Regions from separate parts of the Homo sapiens genome. Here all the other regions are linked to region 2. The links come from fine-mapping of genetic effects on gene expression. A gene starts in region 2. Each other region holds a variant in brackets. All regions are shown on one strand. Distances are between the middles of the regions.

Region 1 (2,759 bases), 52 kb before region 2:
GACAAAGGAGAATGAAGTCCAGGAAACAGTTCTCCGTCTCCAACTTTGTCCCTGCCTCTGGTTTGATGTCTCTGGCCCTTTTTCTATTTATCTATCTCCCTTTCTCTGTCATTGCTCTTGCGCTGCCCCCCACCCCACACTTTTATTTTCTCCTTGTCTCTTTCCTCCTCTCTTTCCCTCCACCCCAAAGCCATGTCTTGAATTTGCTCTTGGCCTTTTTGTTTGTCTTTAACTTCAAGAACTTGCATAGGTATTCTGTTGAGGGGAGCTGACCAGAGGACAACATCCCATGGGGCTGTAGCAATTGCAACAAAAAACACAGAGAAGGACATGGGGATAGAATAGTCCCACCCTCCTTTCAAAGGCCCTATTACAGCATCCGTCATGGTTGTCCATCCAGCCTCTACTTCCAAACCTCTGGGGACGGGGGTATCGATAGGCCCTGACTCAGCCATCCCCTTGCAGAACAGCTCAAACTGACAGGAGGTCTTTTCTGGAAGTGGACTAAAATCACTATTTCTGTGGCTTCCACCCACAGGTCTTAATTGTGGTCCTTGGGATCATCCAGGTCACTCCAGCTCCCTCTGCCCTTTGGCAGTCCTTCAGAGGTCTCCCCGAAGAATTAAGGTCCTTTTCTGCCTGCATTCTCTCAATGTGGGCTCTCAGGAGAGAATGAGAGGCCCTCCAACCCATTGTAGTTGTGCTGCATCCTGGGAGAGGGCATCCCTATCCTAAACCAAATTGGGGAGGGAGTTGGCAGGAGCATCAGAAATATTCCAGGGAAGGGCTACTGGTCAGAAATGATGTCCCACCAGGTCATGTCCCACCTCACCTCAGTCTGAGATAAGGTGGGGGAATGGAAACTGGCCCAGCCTGAGGACATAGGGACAGTAGGCAGGCAGCTGGAAAGAAGGCCAGGGCAGGAGGCAGGCTGGCCCGTCCCTGCCTGAGACCCAAAGCCCTTGACAGGAGACCTCAGGTGCCCAGGGAACTGGGCAGCCAAGAGCCAGAGAGCAGAGAGGCCTGCTCTGGGGGCACATTCAGGACTGGATGCCCTGTAAGAAGAGAGGCACAGAGCATTGAGTCAGCTCCTTCAGCCCAGCGCCCGGGAGTAGCAAGAGTGCTTTTCAGCCACATACTTCCTAGCGAGCAGGCACGAAGTCTTGAGATCCTGCCAGCCTGGGCTCTTCAGCTTGCACCAAACTAGGAAGGGGCCCAGCCTAGCCTGGCCAGA[C/G]CAGTTCTGTATCTACCCCTCAACTTCCATCAGAGCGGCACACTTGCAACTCCCAGCAGATTCCACCCAGGCACTGGCCTCAGGTGCTTCCAAACTCCTTGGGGTGGCAGGGGTCTCTCTATGCTTCAAGCCCTCAAGGGGAGATTTCTGGTCTCCCTGGAATGATTCCCAGAAGCCAACCAGGATCCTTCATGCTGCAGCTGTTGCTCTGGCCCTACCCCCAGTGGATTTTGCTGTTTGTTGCACATTTAGTGAGTGCCTTACTTCTCTGTGCCAGGCCCTGTGCTAAGCTTTTTGCATACATATCAGAGATGAAAGAGTTAACACCATGTGCCCACCAGAAGTCCTGCCCCCTCTCTGGCATCCCTCTATACTTCTCAGGCAGCAGAAATCATATTCCCTAAGGCAGCACTTGGCAGAAAGGAGCCTGCTCTGCCCAGCTGACCACATGTGCCTTTGCTTTCCCTCCCCTCTTGGTTCCTCAAGCAAGTGTCAGGAAACAGGATCCAAGGAGAAAACAGGCACCTGTTCCTGAAGTTCCCGACAGGACCCCTCTTCCCTGCCCCAGCCTCTGGGCCTCCTGGTGCCCCTAGGGCCTGATAGGAAAGAAAGGCCTCAAAGGCATTGGGAACCTCCTCCTAGTTTCTATCTGGCCTGCCACATTTGGTCAACCCTGTCAAAGAGAGGCAATGCAGTAGAATACAGCAGTTAATAGCACAGACACCAGAACCAGACAGCCCAGGCTGGGCCACATAATAGATTCGCAAGTCTCAGTTTTTCCCATCTATAAAATGGGCATCATAATTGTATCTACTTCATTGGGTTGTTTTGAGGGTTGAGTTAATATATGTAAAATATTCAGAATAGCATCTGAGGTGTAGTAAATAAACAAATAATTGTTAAATAAATTCAACTCCTGTCCCCTAGGATCTCCCCAACTTCTACCCTCCGAGTTGCCCCAGTTTTTGCTCTATCTCATTAATCTCCCTGGACAAGTATAGGAACTCTGCCCTTGCTTCCTACCCTGGCCCCCTCTATCACTGTCCCTTAGTCCCCTGAGGCTAGACCCTAGCCCAGGTGCTCAGCTACCCTCTGGAGATGCTGAAAGGCCTGCATGGGAATGGGTCTTCCTCTACCTGCAGCTCAGTGGGGGCTTCCCCTGGGAGGCCTCTTGCCTCTGTCTCCCCAGAGTGGGGCAGCTGCTCTGCCTCTTTAAGGCCCTAACTAGGTCATCGCCTAGCTGAACACCCCCTCACATTCCCCTCACACTAAACAATCTGATCTGATCGCTGGTGATGAGGTCAATTTCACATGGCTTTGTTCCTGCAGTGAGCTTGTCACGACCAATCATTTCCGAGCGAGGAGCCCATAATCCCGCGCTGGCTCTCTCACCCCCAGAGGCCATGGCCCCTTTCTTGCTCACCAGTATGAGGTCCCCAAGGGCCGGCTCAGCACGAGTTTCCTCATGGCCTCTGTGTGCCCTCCCACTCTTCCTGGCTTGAGTAGGAGAGAGTCTGGGTTGGGG
Region 2 (2,759 bases):
ATCTTCACTCACTTCAGCCTCAACCTCCTGGGCTCACACAATCCTCCTGCTTCAGCCTCCTAAGTAGTTGGGACTACAGGCACACACCACCAGCTTGTCATATCTTTCTCAGTGAATAAAGCAACCTGTTTTGTTCTCTTTAGTTCTTTTTACTTTGAGTTCTCGATGTTTAGGATATTGATATTGTTACGAGTTTGTTTCCTCCTTCCTTTCCTTCCTTTTTTTTTTTTTTGCTTCTTTCCTTCCCTCATTCCCTCTCTCCCTTTTTTCTGCTAGTATTTTACTCTCATATATTTTTTATTCCTATTTCTGCTTTAGGTGAAACTCACATAAATAGAATATAACTTAGCTTTTAAAAACAAAATGCTCAAAATAAGAGTTTGGTTTTTATTAGGAGATGTTAACCCATAATGCATGCTGATATATTTGGATTCCTGCATTTTTGTTTTCTTTTTGCATCCTTTTTTTTGTACCCCCCCAGCAACATTTCTTGACCTTTGTTAAGAATGAGTTTTTCTCTTTGTTCCACATATTATTACTTTAATGGTTTGAAAGTTATACATTTTATTTCTATTATGTTGTTACCCCTAAGATTTTTGTTCTATTATGCATTTTGTTTCCAGTAAGAACAAAACTTTGCTACTGTTGTGAACATGGGAAATGTTTACATTGGCTGTAAATACTAGAGTTCCATTATAAAGCGCAATTTAAAGACTTCAGAATTCAGTAAAATGGTATAAATCCAAAAGGCGTAACTACAATATTTTTAACTGCAATGCAATAACAGAATATGAACCTGTGTTGTGTCCTATGATCTCTTGGACAGAGAAGCTTGGTTTTGTGATTAGCAGCAACAAATTCAACATAAACAGCTTCAATTTGCTTTAACCATCAGGTTAAAAAAAATTTAAGCTTACTGCAACCCTAAATATGGTTTCACAGTTTTAATACTTTCGGTACAACCATAACACGTAACATAGGATGTGATGTAGTAACGTAATTACTCTCACATTGGACTTAATCAGAAAGAATTTGCAGATTTTATTTTATTTATTAAAAAACCAGAAGGCAATATAGCTAAATGTTTAACATTAGTTAAAGCTGGGTGTTTGTGACATTTTTCGCTGTCCTTTTCTGTATCCTTGACGATTTCATCATTTAAGATGAAATAATGCTTTCGGGCCCACCCTGATTTGTGGAGAGCAGCTGCCGCCCCCGCCACATCAAGGAGGCGGGCTCCAGCTGACTTCACAATCACTTCCGCCGCCGCAGTCGCCGCCCGCCCCGCTGCTGTCTGGCGGGGGAGGAGCTCGGGACCGGGAGCAGCGGCTCTGGCGGTCGTGGCGGTCGGAGATCCGAGAGCTCTGCTTCTCTGAAAAGCGTGTGGCTTTCTGGACTTGGTGAGTGAAAGGCTGATTGTTTCCTCGATTCATCCGGGCGCTGGCGGTGGCGCGAGTGGCCGGGCGCGGGGCGAGTGGCCGGGCACGGGGGCGAGGATTTTGGGGGGTTCCTGGGAACTGCTTTTCAGGTTCGCCCCTCGGGAAGGGGTGGGGCGGACGCGGGACCTGACTGCAGAGTGAGGCCCATGTCCTCCATCGGCCTGTTCTGGGGCCACATCTTCCGCTGCCGGAACCCCTTTGGTGTGGCGCGGTCCCCACTCGAGTGGCTTTCATCGCTATTGGGAGGGCAGTGGTGGTCGCGGCCCTCTCCCACTTCTCCCTGCCTCTCCTCCCCTCTCCTTCCTTCTTCCCTCCTCGGCCCCTTTGCGGAGCACTCCGTGGCCTTTCTTCCCATATTTTGCTGTTGTTTTGCCAAATGGTAAATGGTTAAGATTTTTAGGTAAAAATACTGTTCCCAGGGAAAAAATTGGAAGGAAAAAATAATTATTCTCAGGGAAAACTAGACCCACGCACGCCCTTTTCTTTCATTTTCCCTCTCCCCTGCCACATCGGTTGGGGTCTCCCGTTTGAGCTGATGGCCTTTTCCCACCTCTTTTTATGACATTGCGTCCCCCCTACCCCCCACCCCCCGTGTGTCGCGAGCACGCGCCCCCGCACAGAAGCCTTCCATTGCAGCCCCCTCCTTGCCCCTCCATCCTCAAGGTTCCAGTGCTTCCCCTCCCCCGCGCATGCGCAGGCACACGCAGCACACACCCTCTCACACACCCTCACACCCTCACACCCTCCCATGCCTTCCCCCTCCTCTATCCGCCTACCACATACACACCTCTAGCACCGGCCCCCTCCCTGCTCGGCCTCTGCGTGCTCTCGCGAACACATGCCTATTCACACACCCCCTCCGGCTGCCCTCCTTCTTCCTTCCTGTCATATACACACATAAGGACATCCTTCTATCGCTGGCCAGTGACATACATATGTAGCCACATGTGCTCATTCATACCCCCTTCTCAAATGCTCTCCTCTATTGCTCTGTCTGCCACGTGTGTCAGACACAGCTCTCTTTTGCTGGTCCCTGAGGTGCACACACTCGCACTCACATAAATCCTTCTACGGGGACACAACCTGCCTCCCTGCTTGCCATATCCACACAGGCAGGCATCATTCTTTGATTGCCTGCCTCTGTTCCATCCACCTCAAGCACATCCCTCTCCAGTGCTGCGCACCCCCCACCCCCGCTTCCATTTGTGCCTGCTGCATTTGCTCACACTGACATTTCTCCATTGTTGCCTCCCATTTTGACTAACATACACACACACAAACTCTCAGACACTCCTCTCCATTGCCAACCATACACTCCTC
Region 3 (2,759 bases), 140 kb after region 2:
TGGTTTTGAGGTCAAGTAAATGAATACATGCAAAATGCTTACACAGGGCCTGGCACAGAAAAGCACTACATAGAAGTGGGGTTATCTTTTTTTTTTTTTTTTTTAATGAGATGGCGTTTCACTGTGTTGCCCAGGCTAGAGTGAAGTGGTGCAAACACAGCTCACTGCAGCCTCCACCTTCTTAGCTCAAGCTATCTTCCCACATAGCTGGGACCACAGGCATATGCCACCACATCTGGCTAATTTTTTTATTTTTTTGTAGAGACAGTGTCTTGCTATGTTGCTTAGGCTGGTCTTGAACTCCTGGGCTTAAATGGTTCACCTGCCTTGGCCTCCCAAAGCTCTGGGAATACAGGTGTGAGCCACTGAACCCGACTGGCTATCATTTTAAGGATCAAAATTATCAGTATTTCTCCATGACCCCCAGTCACTTACACAAACACACACACACACACACACACACACACACACACACACACAAAACCACTCGTATTCTCCTTCCTCTGCAGGTGTCAAATCAGCCTACAGATCTCCAAGCCAGTGCAGGCAGAGGCCGTATGACACAAGCAACCTCAGTCACCACTCATCCTCCATCTACTGGCCAGTCCCCCTCCAATAAATAAATTTCTGATTCTGACCCCCAGCCCAGGCCAAGGCTCACATTGGCTCATGAGAACTGCATGTGCATATCTCTTTACAAAGCTGTATCCAGTGATGTCATATTCATAGCTTGAATTCAGCCACTGTGGGAGTATTTATACCATGGCAATTGGCAACACTACAAATCAGAGATTTTTTTCCCCTCCCCGTGAGCAAGCTGTTAAATATTTACCAGCACAACATTACTTGTACCAACCTTTCATTTCTCCGCATTCCACCCTGGGGCCCTTCTCTACATGACACTTGCTCTTCTTCCAGACGCTAAATCCAACTGTAGCTGACTCCCTGCAGCAGCATTGCCCCATCTGATTAATATCCTGTGACTACTTCCTCTTGGAACCTCAAGGCCCACTGTTGACTGTGCCCCTGCCCTTTGGCACCAAACTTTGTCCACCAGGGAGCCCCCTTCACCGCTAGTCAGACCTACTCCCCAGCCCCCATCCTAAGCAAGTATGGGAGTCTCATGCCAGGCCCCTGCCCCATCCTTTCCTCTGCCTGCACAGTGTTGCCCTAAATTGCCAGTAGGCTGGTATCCAAGTCCTGAGCAAGCCATGATGAGGCATCTGCTGTACCTCTGAAAAGCAGAGTATAAGATTTTGCACGTTGGATGGTTTGCTCCATGAAGGAGCAAGAGACCTGGAGGGGAAGCATGACCCAGGGTGGTGGTTATCTTTTCTTGTGGGCTGAGTGGGCCAGTTTATTTATTCATTAGAATAAAAGCTGCATGAAGGCAGGATTTGACATCTATTTGTTTTTTTTGCTGTGTTCCCAGTGCTTAGATCAGCACTGGGCCCTTACTAAGTATTCAATAAATATAAGTTGAATGAATAAATGAATTAATCTGCTTATTCAACAAATGTTTCCCCTAAGCTTTTATTTGTACCAGGACATTTTAGATCCTGGTGATACAGAAAAGAGCAACATATGGTCCCTGCCTTCAAGAAGCTTCTGGTCCCATGGGCCACAGATGTGGCC[G/A]TTAGCGAAACCCGGGAGTCCCTCCAGGACGGCTTGTGAGCACTGGTGCAGATGGGAGCAGGGGCAGGGGCTCCCAGCTTCCAGACCAAGATGGGGTGCTGTGTGGGCCAGAGAAATCACAGTGTTTGTCTGCACGTGCTCAGTGGATTGTGCTAGCTGCTGGCTGTTGGCTGAGGTGGCCGCCCAAGGTCTCTTGGCCAGAACACAGCTCCAACTCCTTCACTCTGGCCCCGCCCACCCAAAGGAGCAGAGCTGTTGGCCAAGAGAGAGGAGTCAGGCAGGGAATCCCAGCCCCTCCCTGCCCCTGACTGGGCCCGGAAGGGCCTGGCATGCTTCTAATATCAAGCAGCAAATTCAATCAGGCAGATGAGAATTCCTATTATTTTAATATATTTAGAAGAGAGTTTAAGGTGGATTTTGTTCCATGCTGTATATTTTTACAACATGAGGTCAGGCCACTTTGATAAATGCTGTAATGCAGGCAGGAGGGGCCTTGGGAAAGGGTGAGTGAGAGAAAGAGTTGAAAGAGGGAGAGGGAAAGAAAGAGAGACAGAGACAGACAAAGGCAGAGACACAGAGACAAAGTCATAGAGACAGAGAGGCAGAGGCAGAGAGAGAGAGGCAGACATAAAGACTGTATGTGCATCTCTGGATCCATTTTTGCACATATGTCTATGACTCCATGTGTGTTTCTGTGTCTGTTTGTTGTTCAAGTCGACAAATCCATTTGGGGATAAATAGGATGATTTTTCCACCTGCAGGAAGCAAGGCAGCCAAAGGCTGATTGGGGCTGCTCCGCTCTGCTGCTCTCAGAAGGCCTTGGGCTGGGACTCGCATTGCTCCCTAGGCCAGGCTCCAGGCTCTGCTTAGAAACTGAGATGCAGGCAGGCGGCCAGAAAGGCAGAGGCAGTCAATCCTTAGCAGGAGAGAGGCACTGGGCCCCCGGGTGCCCCCTGCCCTGCTGGCTCTGCCACGTGACTCCATTCTCACCTTCCCCGGAGGATCCCCATTCCGCTCTTAGAAGCCGGCATACATGGCTCCCAGCATCCAAAACAAATACCACTGGAGCACAGGGACTCACGGTGCCTTCTTTGAGACCAGAATGCATAAGCATGGCAGGAAAG

Which allele goes with the higher level. Positions count from the first base shown, and alleles are read on the strand shown. Sizes are in standard deviations (SD) of each study's normalised expression.
For the expression in thyroid of the gene that starts at base 1,319 in region 2, G is the low allele of the variant in region 1 and C is the other (small effect, 0.21 SD a copy in GTEx).
For the expression in adrenal gland of the gene that starts at base 1,319 in region 2, allele A in region 3 goes with a higher level than allele G (moderate effect, 0.55 SD a copy in GTEx).

What was found.
Region 1: its variant is fine-mapped to the expression of PJA1 in thyroid (GTEx, PIP above 0.99).
Region 3: its variant is fine-mapped to the expression of PJA1 in adrenal gland (GTEx, PIP 0.97).

What each region holds. Positions count from the first base shown.
Region 1 is chrX:69,215,516-69,218,274 of GRCh38, reverse strand. No RefSeq gene overlaps it. Among named protein-coding and RNA genes, the nearest start is that of LINC00269, 37 kb to the right of the region's middle. RefSeq lists an enhancer at 562-1,061. The variant C/G (reference allele first, on the strand shown) is at 1,235.
Region 2 is chrX:69,164,013-69,166,771 of GRCh38, reverse strand. PJA1 (praja ring finger ubiquitin ligase 1) reads left to right here and starts at 1,319. Exons shown (of 2, transcript NM_001032396.4): 1 at 1,319-1,400.
Region 3 is chrX:69,024,240-69,026,998 of GRCh38, reverse strand. No RefSeq gene overlaps it. Among named protein-coding and RNA genes, the nearest start is that of PJA1, 140 kb to the left of the region's middle. The variant G/A (reference allele first, on the strand shown) is at 1,636.